2 linked regions of the Homo sapiens genome follow. The protein of the gene in region 2 interacts with the protein of the main gene of each other region in a pairwise test. Each region holds a gene or a part of one and is shown on either strand. Other genes may lie near its edges.

The links.
Region 1: the proteins of TOM1L1 (region 2) and DNAJB13 interact in binary tests that used the Homo sapiens proteins (3 or more experiments, as listed by UniProt).

Annotation. Positions count from the first base shown.
Region 1 is NC_000011.10:73,967,874-73,970,934, reverse strand, and holds the end of DNAJB13 (dnaJ homolog subfamily B member 13), read right to left. Parts: intron 2,997-3,061; coding exon of another isoform or gene 2,964-2,996; exon of another isoform or gene 2,591-2,963; coding exon 2,477-2,590; intron 1,690-2,476; coding exon 1,613-1,689; intron 975-1,612; coding exon 821-974; 3' UTR 654-820; downstream 1-653. UniProt on the Homo sapiens protein: Functions as part of axonemal radial spoke complexes that play an important part in the motility of sperm and cilia.
Region 2 is NC_000017.11:54,910,833-54,918,137, reverse strand, and holds part of TOM1L1 (TOM1-like protein 1), read right to left. Parts: intron 5,473-7,305; coding exon 5,323-5,472; intron 4,391-5,322; coding exon 4,265-4,390; intron 3,500-4,264; coding exon 3,395-3,499; intron 2,393-3,394; coding exon 2,276-2,392; intron 1-2,275. UniProt on the Homo sapiens protein: Probable adapter protein involved in signaling pathways. Interacts with the SH2 and SH3 domains of various signaling proteins when it is phosphorylated. May promote FYN activation, possibly by disrupting intramolecular SH3-dependent interactions.

The sequences.
Region 1 (3,061 bases), on a different chromosome or scaffold from region 2:
AAGCATAAGCCACCACACCCGGCCTTTCTAGTTTTTTTGAGATGGAATTTCACTTTCGCCCAGGCTGGAGTGCAGTGGTGCAATCTCAGCTCACTGTAACTCTGCCTCCCAGGTTCAAGCAATTCTCCTGCCTCAACCTTTGGAGTAGCTGGGATTACAGGTGCCCACCATCACACCTGGCTAATTTTTGTATTTAGTAGAGACGAGGTTTCACTATGTTGGCCATGCTGGTCTCGAACTCCTGACCTCAAGTGATCCGCCCACCTTGGCCTCCCAAAGTCCAGGCATGAGCCACCGCACCCAGCCACCTTCAAGGTTCTGATGACAGCTTTGCCACTGAGGCCTGAGTGACCTGCAATGAATGTTTTCTTTTGTGCTTTAGTTTTCCTGTCTCTAACGTGACCATATCATGCTCCAGAGATTGTCTCTTCTGTCATGAAAAGCCAGAGCAGAGCTAGAGACCCTCAGAGGCCACACAGCCCTGCCCCACTCTATCAAAGTGGAAGCACAGAGGATCTGAACCCTTACCTGCCCTTTCCCACAAAGCCAGGACAGGGACTCAGGCACTCAGCTCCTTAGGCCTCTTTCTTCCCTGTGCCCCACAAGAAGGGCTAATATGAAGCTCCTCTCCAATGTACTCTCGTGGGTGTAGCTGGAGGACAGGAAATAGATCTTTATTATGTCAGTTTAAGCCCTGCGCCATCCCACCCTTGTATCATATCTGTGCAGCAGGCTCCCCTGCACACCCTGAGGCTGTGGCGGGTAGGGGTGGGGTGAGGCCCGGCTAGCCTCCTCTCACCCCTGCTCCAGCCCACCACAGTCATGTCAGCAATGCCTGGCGCAGCATCTGCTTCTTCTGGGGTGTGAGGCGGGTGGGGAACTGGATGTCGAAGAAGATGAAGAGATCCCCTTTCTTAGTGGGGTCCTCCGGCAATGGCATCCCCTCCCCTGGCACCTTCTTGAAGTATTTGGGGCTGAAATAGGATGAAAGAAAGGAGCATAGAGGGCATCCCAGAGCAGCACCTCAGCAGGTCCCTGTCATATAACCCCTACTCACATAACCCCAGGAAGGGGACAGTCACTGCAGTCTTCACCTGGAGTGGTTCTTAGCCAGAACTGGTTGGGAAAGGAGCTCCCTGAAAACCTGTTTACACTGAGTCTCTGATGGAGGATTCCAGAAACTTTGTTTAAGACATGGGAAACGGGAAGTAAAGGTGAGCAAACCCTGGGGTGAGGGCGAGGGTGCTGGGCTGCCAGGCAAACCTCCTCACGGGCAGAGGGCCTTTCTTGGAAAAGGACTTAGGATATGCAACTCAGAACTCTAATGAGAAGTTTGCAGGGCATGGAGGCTACAGGGTTGCCCAACAATGGGGGCCTCTAGCCTCTGCAGTGGCTTTGTGTGGATTAGAAAAAGATGTTCCTTTTGCCAGGTGATTGCAGCCCACAGCTTGGCCAGTGTGGGTTCAGTTTTGGTCCTCTCTATCCCCTCAGCAGGGAACCCTTCTGCTGGGGGCAGCCTGTACAACTCTACTGGGCAGACCTGTCACACTACCACCTAAATCCCAGGCTAGCCCTTCTCTTGGCTACTGGGGCCCAAGGCAGATGGACTCACTGGATGATGTCATTGATGGGGATGTTGAGCAGACGGTCATCTAGGGTCCTCACCTCCACAGTGCAGCAGGTGAGAGCCTAGGGAGGGTCAGGGCCAAAGGTGGGGCTGAGGAGGGTCACCATGGCTCTCCTATTTAGAAGGCACCTTAGGAACCTGTCCAGTGCCAGACTGTGAGTTGGGCACAAGGGAGACGAGGCTGTTCAATAACTAATAGGTGAATGACCCATGCAATTTTCTGCACTGGCAGGAAAGATGGATGGATCTGGCAGGTAAGATGGATGTTGTATAAATGTAATGATGGAGACAGAATAAAAGCGTTTGTGGGAGCCAAGGAGAGGCCCCTAAACCATTCAGGAGTGGGGCAGGAAGTGGTAGCAGTGGTGGTAGCTATTGATGAGGACCCTATAGGGTCAGGTGAATAGACAGCATTCCAGGGAGAGGGCCCAGCAGAAATGAGAACGGAGGTGTGACAATGCGCCACACAGGCAGGGTGCTATGCGGCGAAGGGGCGGGAGTGCAGGGGAAGGAGTAAGCAGGGAGCAGATCGCAGAGGGCCTCCAGTGGCACAAAGATGTTTAGACAGGAGTGTGGCAGGGTCTGATGAGTGTGTGGCAGGATCCCTAAGGAGAAGAGCCTGGAGGAGATGAGAAGTGGGGAGGAAGGCCTGCTGCGCAGATCTGGTGTACAGATCCAGGCGGTGCAGATGAGCAGACGGGACCAAGTGGATGGTGATTTAGAGGGTGGAATCCACAGGGCTTAGTGACTGATGGCAGGTGGTTGTGGGAGGGGAGGCCAAGTCTAGGCCGGGGCAGGCAGGGCTCACTCTGATCTCCTCCCCGCTGCTCCTGCACTTTGCCCACTCACCTTGCCAAGAGGGATGGGGTTCACGAAGAAGAGGTTGTCATTCTCCCTGCGGAAGCGAGGGTGTAGCTTCTCCTTTACGATGAAAATGATGTCTGCTGGGATGATGTTGGGGCCCTGGGCAGGGGACGCCAAAAGGTGACAAGGACTAGTTGGCCGTGTGACCTTGGCCAAGTTCCTGCCTCTACTTGTCTCCATGTCTTCATCTGTACAATGGGGAGATGAGAGCAGGTTTTCTGGAAGGGCCTTTTCAGTTTGGCCCCCATAGCCCAGATGGATTAGAAGCCCGAGAAGCTTACCCAAATGAATCCCCCCAGAATTACTTCTGTACTGAGCATGCCCAAAATAGACACACTCAGCTGGAGGGGCGGAGAGGCTTCCTCAGACGGCAGGCAGGTGGAACACTAAGCTGGGCGTCAGGCAACTGCCCGTATGTCTCTGTCTTGCTAGTAACTCCAGGCATGACACCCCTGTCCCAAACTTCATTAAGTCACCAAAACTCTGCTGAGGTCTCTTCTGGGCGCTGGGGACAGAGGAATCAGACTGGCCCCTAACACTGACAGTGAATCCTCAGCACGCTCAAGACAT
Region 2 (7,305 bases):
GAGTACTGCCTAGAACATGGAAGGAATATGAAGGGTGCTCCATGCCTAAAAGCCAGAAGCCAAGAAGCACAAGGGGCTCTAACAGATTGGTTGAGGTACGGCAGTGAAATAACCAGGAAAGACAACCCCTGCTCATGCCCCTTCTCTCATTTGAGACCAGATAGCTGAGAAAGGAGTAATGTTTCCAGGTGGAAACAATGATTGGGACAGAGGGATAGGGTATTATTTCTAGGCACTAGTAGCATTCAGGAAAAAAATAGAGAATACATAATCCAGAAGACCATCCATAAATGGATCCCAAACAGCATCATCCCATGTTGCTATACCATACTCTGAAAATATTATCAAGCACAGCAGTAGCAATTACATCCTCCCTTCAGCATGGGTGAGCTGGGTCAGCAGAGAATGCAGACCAGCTGGCAGAGAGTCTCACACAAAAATGAGCTCACTATCAGCAATCCAGCTGAACACTGGAGAATGCAAATTAAAAAATGAACAAAAAATTTGCAAAGGAGAGTCCACAGAACAAACAAAAAAGCAGCGTTAAATATAATTATTATCCTTGGAAAGATAAAGAAAAGCAGAACCATGAAATGAAAGAACTGTTATAAAAATCCAACATATTTTAAAAATATTTTAAAATTATGTACATATTTGTATATAGTAAATATGTTTAAAGTACATATTTTTAATAGAAAGAAATTGTTGAAACATTTATTAGAAGGACTGAATAAGCAACTCAATTACAAGTTTTAGAGAAATACATTAAACAGAGAAATTATCCCAGAACTTAGAATGAAGAAATGAAAAGTATAAAAGAAATGTTAAGAGACAAATGAATCCAACTGGAAGTTTCATCGTCTTAAAGTTCCATAAGAAGAGAATAGAAAGAATGGTAGAAAGTCAATATTTAAAGTAGGAGCTGAGAATTCCTAGAATTAAAAATACACATAAGTTGATAAGGCAAAAAAGCCTATCATCTACTAAGGAAGATAAGTAAGTTAAACAAACATCTGCACACATGTACATATATCTCTTCAGAGGGAACAGTACAATTTCTGAAATATTAACGTAGAAAAATAACAAATGCAACTAGAAAAAAATATTATTAATCAAAGGATTAAGAAGCAGAATAATATAATACTTCTATCAGCATTAGTGGGTGTAAGAGAACAGTGAAGCAGTATCTTCAAAGGCCTAGAATTTTGTGCCTAGAATTTTATATCTAGCTAAACTAACCTGCATTTAACATGACAATCAGAGGACATTTTTGGATATGCAAGCACTCAAAGTTTGCACCAAAGTTTACCAACATGGGTGTACTGCAGCAAGGAAAAAACAAACTATTCACGACAGCAGTGATATCTAAGAAACATTGTTGGGAAAATTTTTACAATTTTTTTGTTTCCCAAATAAGAAATGAGCAAGGAAAAAGTTATTTACTAACAATCTAAGAAGTTAAAGGAAAAATAACATGAGAGGTGGCGAGTGGGAATCTGAGAAAAGTAAAAATATCTTAAGCTTCTTAACTTGGCAACAAAGGGACTTAGAAACTAGAAACTGATTTTTTTTTCTAACTGCTTCTAAAATTAATAAGTTTTAAAATTTAAAATAATTAGAAGAGCAAACTGGTAGAGGGAAAAATAAAGTATATGTATACACAGACATAGCAGAAGGCATAGGAGGGCTGTAGAACTACTCATGCAGGTCTAAATGCCCTGTCTACTTGTTCCTCTATAGCTCGAGCATTGCCTCCATCTAGACCATTCTTAAAAACCTCACATCTCTCCTTCTCCCCACCCATGATCCCACCATATACTGAACAAATTTATACTACAGTATCTATAATACTTCATTATGTTTGTTGTTTACAAACCAATCTTGCTCATTAGGCATAAACTCTTAAGGACTAGAATAGCCTCCTTCTCATTTCTACATCCCTTCCTATATCACAGTTACTCAATGTTTGTTGAGTGGATGAAAATAGAGGCAATTTTTACATACTTAAAACAACTAGAGAATTGATTGTACATGACCAAGGTTATAACTTATAATAAATTATTTGTTGCAAGAGGCTAAAAACCATGTCTAAGTTACTACTGCATTTCTGACAAAGTCATTCTTGGATATTTTTGTTAAGTTTAGAAATCAACTGAAATCAGGATGTAGGAGGATGTACTAGACAATATTAAGGTGTCTTCCATCTCCAAACTCAAAGTTTAGAGAATAACTTTAAGAGACACTTTGACTGATAGTCCCTGAAATCGTACAACACCTGCAGAAGCTCTATGTCTTCATGGTTTTCAGACCCAGGAGTATTCTCCATCAATATGGCGGACATCACTCGCACATTCATTTTCACCATATCCAATTCACTGTGCAGTTTTCCAATCTGTAGAGAGCAACACAATCACCAGTCAGTGCGACACACAAAGAATAACTACCTTGTTTCCTGCCCCCATGGGACATTTGCTGGATGAAAAAATGCTTTTGCAAAATTTAATATTTTCAAACTTAAATTTAATTTCATATAAATATACATATAGTTATTTTACAAATGTATACCTTGTCACCTTCTAAAAGGACTTGAGATCTCTTGTAATAAACCCCAAAATATGCTTTAGGAATTTTAAAAATGAAAGGAAAAAAAAAGATTAGAACCCAATATGGAGAGGGGAGAAGTACCAGGTACCTAGCAGAAGAAGGTACCAGAAACCTGGATAAAATGGCAAAAGTTATCCTGAGTTTCTTGGCAACCAATAGGGTAAAAGAAAAACAAATGAGGGTTATCCAGTTCTCATGGTATTAAAGAAGAAGGAATAAAGAAACACCTTTTCTTCCTGTATTAAATTCTAAGAGGAATTAGTCACATGCATTTTTATATAAGAAAAAAATAATACAACAAAATCTTCAATTATAGTTCCTTTACAGCAGAACGGAAATTAGCCTCATATAATAATTGTTTATCGGTACCTTGGATAAACTGATATACACAAAGAAGTAAATACAATTCAGTTGGCATAATAAATACAAGTAATAAGACTACCATTTACTAAACTCTCTGAAATATGTGACAGTCCTACCAGAAGTAACAGGAATTAGCTGATGGACCCTAGATCCAGTCCACAGTCAAGGCTCCAGAAAGCCATGAAAGCCGCTAGGCAAGCACAACTCTTACAAAGTTGGGCTTTGGAAGCAGACAGAACCCATGGGATTACTCCTTCTTGGAACTGAACTATGGTAAGTCACATAGTATTACTAAGCCTCAGTCTCTTCCTCTGTGAAATGAGTGTACCTACATCTCAATGTTGTTAACCAGAAAAGACAAACTGTATATAAGGTGCTTACAAATCAGGAAAAGACATCAATTAAATGCAATGATTGTTGTTGTTACCTGTTCTGGGACCAATGTAACAGTCGAGTTCTTTGGAGCAATTACAGAAGAAAGAGCTGGTGCAGTAGGGACAGATGTTGGAGGATTTGATGAGATTTGAGCAGTCTATGAGTATGAAACATGGTAATATTATTATGTGAATTAACATAGCCACCCAACGCCAAGTTTTTTCCATTCAGCTAACTCAAGCACTCTCAAAGTCCTGTGTACAGGGTATCTGCCCAGAGTAAATCATCAGCTACACAACCCGTCCAGCATTTTGTGAAGAATGCTAAGCAAATGACATGCCCATAATAAAGCAGGTATTCAACAAAAGGTGGCTATTAGGATTATCATTTACAATTTAATAAAATGCCCTTTTTTTTTTTTTTTTAACCAAGGGTCTAAGTGATAAACTGCCATGTGAGATTATTGATGCCTTCTCTTTGGGTTGTTAATAACAAATGGTAGCTCAATTCATGTCAAGTCCTTTTAAGCCACAGCTGACAAGGCATCTCCTTCTCCATCAATGACCCTCCTTGGGTCAATGCCACATCTCCAACCTTGGGTGGAGAGGTGAAAGCTCAAGGCTCTAGGCCAGTGCTTCTCAACATTAATGTGCAGAGAAAACACCTGGAAATCTTGTAAAAAGGGAGGTTCTGATTAGTCTAGGGTGGAACATGCCAAACAAACTTTCATACTTTTAGTAGCAAAACACACTTTAAGTAGCAAAATCCCAAGTCTCGGTTATTCTATGAGATATTGCAATATCCTTCTAATAACTTCATCTTTTTGCTTAAGCTGGGTGGATTTAGGGTTGTCTCCTGTAATGAGAAAAGACCCAAGTGATACACTACTATAGTCTCCATGGGTCAAAGAAAGGCCTCCTACCTCTTGTCTTGCTGTTTCAGCCTCTGCTTCTGAGGGAGGAAACTGAACGCCTTTCTTAACCAGGTCGAGGTATACTTCTTTGACTTCGCTTACATCCACACCTCCTGGGAAGCCCTGTGACCAAGTCTGAATTCAAGAGATGAAAAAAGTTCCAGAGTTAAAACAGCAACAAAACCAAAACACAATTCTTTTTTTTTTTTTTTTTTTTGAGACAGAGTCTCACACTATTGCCCGGGCTGGAGTGCAATGGCACAATCTCTGCTCATTGCAATCTCCGCCTCCTGGGTTCAAGCGATTCTCCTGCCTCAGCCTCCTGAGTAGCTGGGATTACAGGCGCCCGCCACCACGCCTGGCTTACTTTTTGTATTTTTTAGTAGAGACGGGGTTTCACTATGTTGGCCAGGCTGCTCTCGAACTCCTGACCTTGTGATCTGCCCACCTCGGCCTCCCAAAGTGCTGGGATTACAGGCGTGAGCCACCGCACCCAGCCGAAAACACAATTCTTAAGCTCCTGATAGAAAATAAGAGATCAATAATTATGTACCCCACTCAGAAAGAGAAAGCTACTTTTGAATGCCATGGGCAAAATGCTCATTTTCAAAGGCTAGGAAAATATAAAATCTTTTAAATCAGATTTCCATGCCTCAAAATCTTGAAGAAACCCTAGGATATATACTATCAATTGTTTTTTGCTGCTCTGAATCCAAAATTAATAGATTCTAAAATAACATCAGTAGCTCTTTTTCCAAGTAACCTTGAACTAGTCAGTTAGCTGGAAGTTTCCCTACCTGCAAAGTGAACACACAGATCACTGTCTTTCCTATTTGACACAGATAAAATAGAAACTGAGAGGAAAGCAGGGAAATGACTACAAATTCTTCAGAAAAAGGGCACCATCCAATGCCAAAAAATTATTATTACACAGAAACTAAAATAGCAAAAATGCTTTTCTAGCTCAATCCTAGATATATAAAAGATAAGTGAAACAATCAGGAGGTAAGCTATTAAATCCCTAATCTTAGAAATTTACCATCCCATGAGGTATACAACAGACTTACCTTAATGAAATTCAAGATTCTATTCTGAATGTCTAATGGCAAGTTGTATCTGGGATTCAGTAGCTTAACTAAATTCTCTTTAACAAATTCCTTCTTCACAATCAGAGACTGGAAACTTGGACCACAGTTCTGCACACACATGTCAATAAGCTAAATTAGAAAAAAAATTAAACATTATATTTATCTGGCAAAACCACCTCCTAAAAATGTAAGGGAAAAACTGCTAAATAATGGGTTCCATCAGCATCCTAATTAACAAACATAATTTAGTATCTACTAAAATATATGGCAAAATGTTAGGTTCTGGGGATATGTGGAAGTATGAGCATAATGTAACAGTCTGGAGGACAGACTTATTGAGGAGTCCCAGCACATCCAGAAGGGCATTAACACCAATGCAGAGTACTAAATGCTAAATGCTGAAGGGACGTGCAGGCCAAACATATGAGCTATGGATGGAATAATATCTGTCCCAGTTTACCCAGGGTAGCACAGGTATATTCCCAATGTCCTGTTTATTAATGATGACACACCCTTTCACTTTCAAAAATGTCCTGGTTTGGATGATAAATTACACAGTCACCCCAGCTATAGGCCCTTATAGGCAAGAGTGATTATTTAGGGCTAGGTGGTCTTACAAGACTTTTGGAAAAGGCTAACTGGAAGCTGGGCTTTGCAAAATGGCTAAGAACAGTAAAAATGAGTATAGAGCTATATTCTAGACAGATAAATTGTATGAAAAATATATAAATGTGGAAAAATGGGTAAGTTATGAAGGGGGAGATAAGTATTCTGGTCTGTCTCTAGTAGAGGCATCCTGATATAGGTAAATTGGGGACACTGGAAAGATAGGGTGGATAAAGTCCGTCCAGGTTGTAGAGAAGTTTGTGTGGCATGCAAAGGGTGTGGATATTATCTTGAAGGCACTATGAAGTTATGGAGGGTCTCTGTTAGTTTGTCACCATCACACCTGTACCCTGAAATTGAGGAAAAGGTTAATGTGTGCAAAGTAATATTCTGGATAGGTTGTCAGGCAGCACTCTGCAAAGGCAAGCGGAGGGAGAAGAAACCTGGAATGATAGAAAGATCCAGTAGCAATGCACTATTTCAGGCATGTTATAGAAAAGGCCTAAACTAAGATGATGTGGGTACAAGAAAAGGAGGAGTCATGACACCATTATGAAGGAAGAACTTTGAATGACAGTGCTGGTCAAAAAAGGAAGATGACTGAAAGTTAAGTGACTCTCATTCTGCATGAGGACCCCTGTGACGGAAATTTGGAAGAGGGGGTGGTATGGCTGGTCTAGGTGTAAAAATGATGGGCTGAAATTTAGATATTTTGAGTTCAAAAGATAAGGGGCATTTAAGTAGGTGTTTAGCAGTGAGCTGGACACACACAGCTATAGTTCAAGAGAGTGAAGGGCCAAAAGTGAGTCATCAAGGCTGCCTACAATGAGAAGAGAAGAGGAAGGGCTGAAACACTGGGGTTCACCTACTATACGGGCCAACGAAAATCCAAGGAAGGCAATCAAAGAGTAACTGACAGAAAATGAAGCACAAAATCAGGAATACATAAGGCACCCCTTTGGTAAAGTCAAAAGAAAAGTTTCCTGGAGGATGGGGTGTTATACAGTTAAGAAGATGGTCTGAGGAACATCAGTTCCCTTGAAAAACACATTTGCAATAAAGCAACATGAGCAGAAACTTGACTAAGAAAGAATGAACCAATACTGAAGAACTGCATGCAGGAAGTAGATTTCTAAAAGTAAACTAAAAACAAAATTAAATCTTTAGTTTCCATGCTACCACCTCAAATTAGAAAGGTCATAGAAACCATAGCATGACCAGGATAGGTATAATCATCTCTGCAGAATAGAAGCCCTGAAAATGGACTTCATGCCATGCTTTGTATTTTTAGTCTCTCTTTAATGGCAATACATAAAGCGGCAGCATATAGCGTTTAAGTTATACTTAAAACGCTAT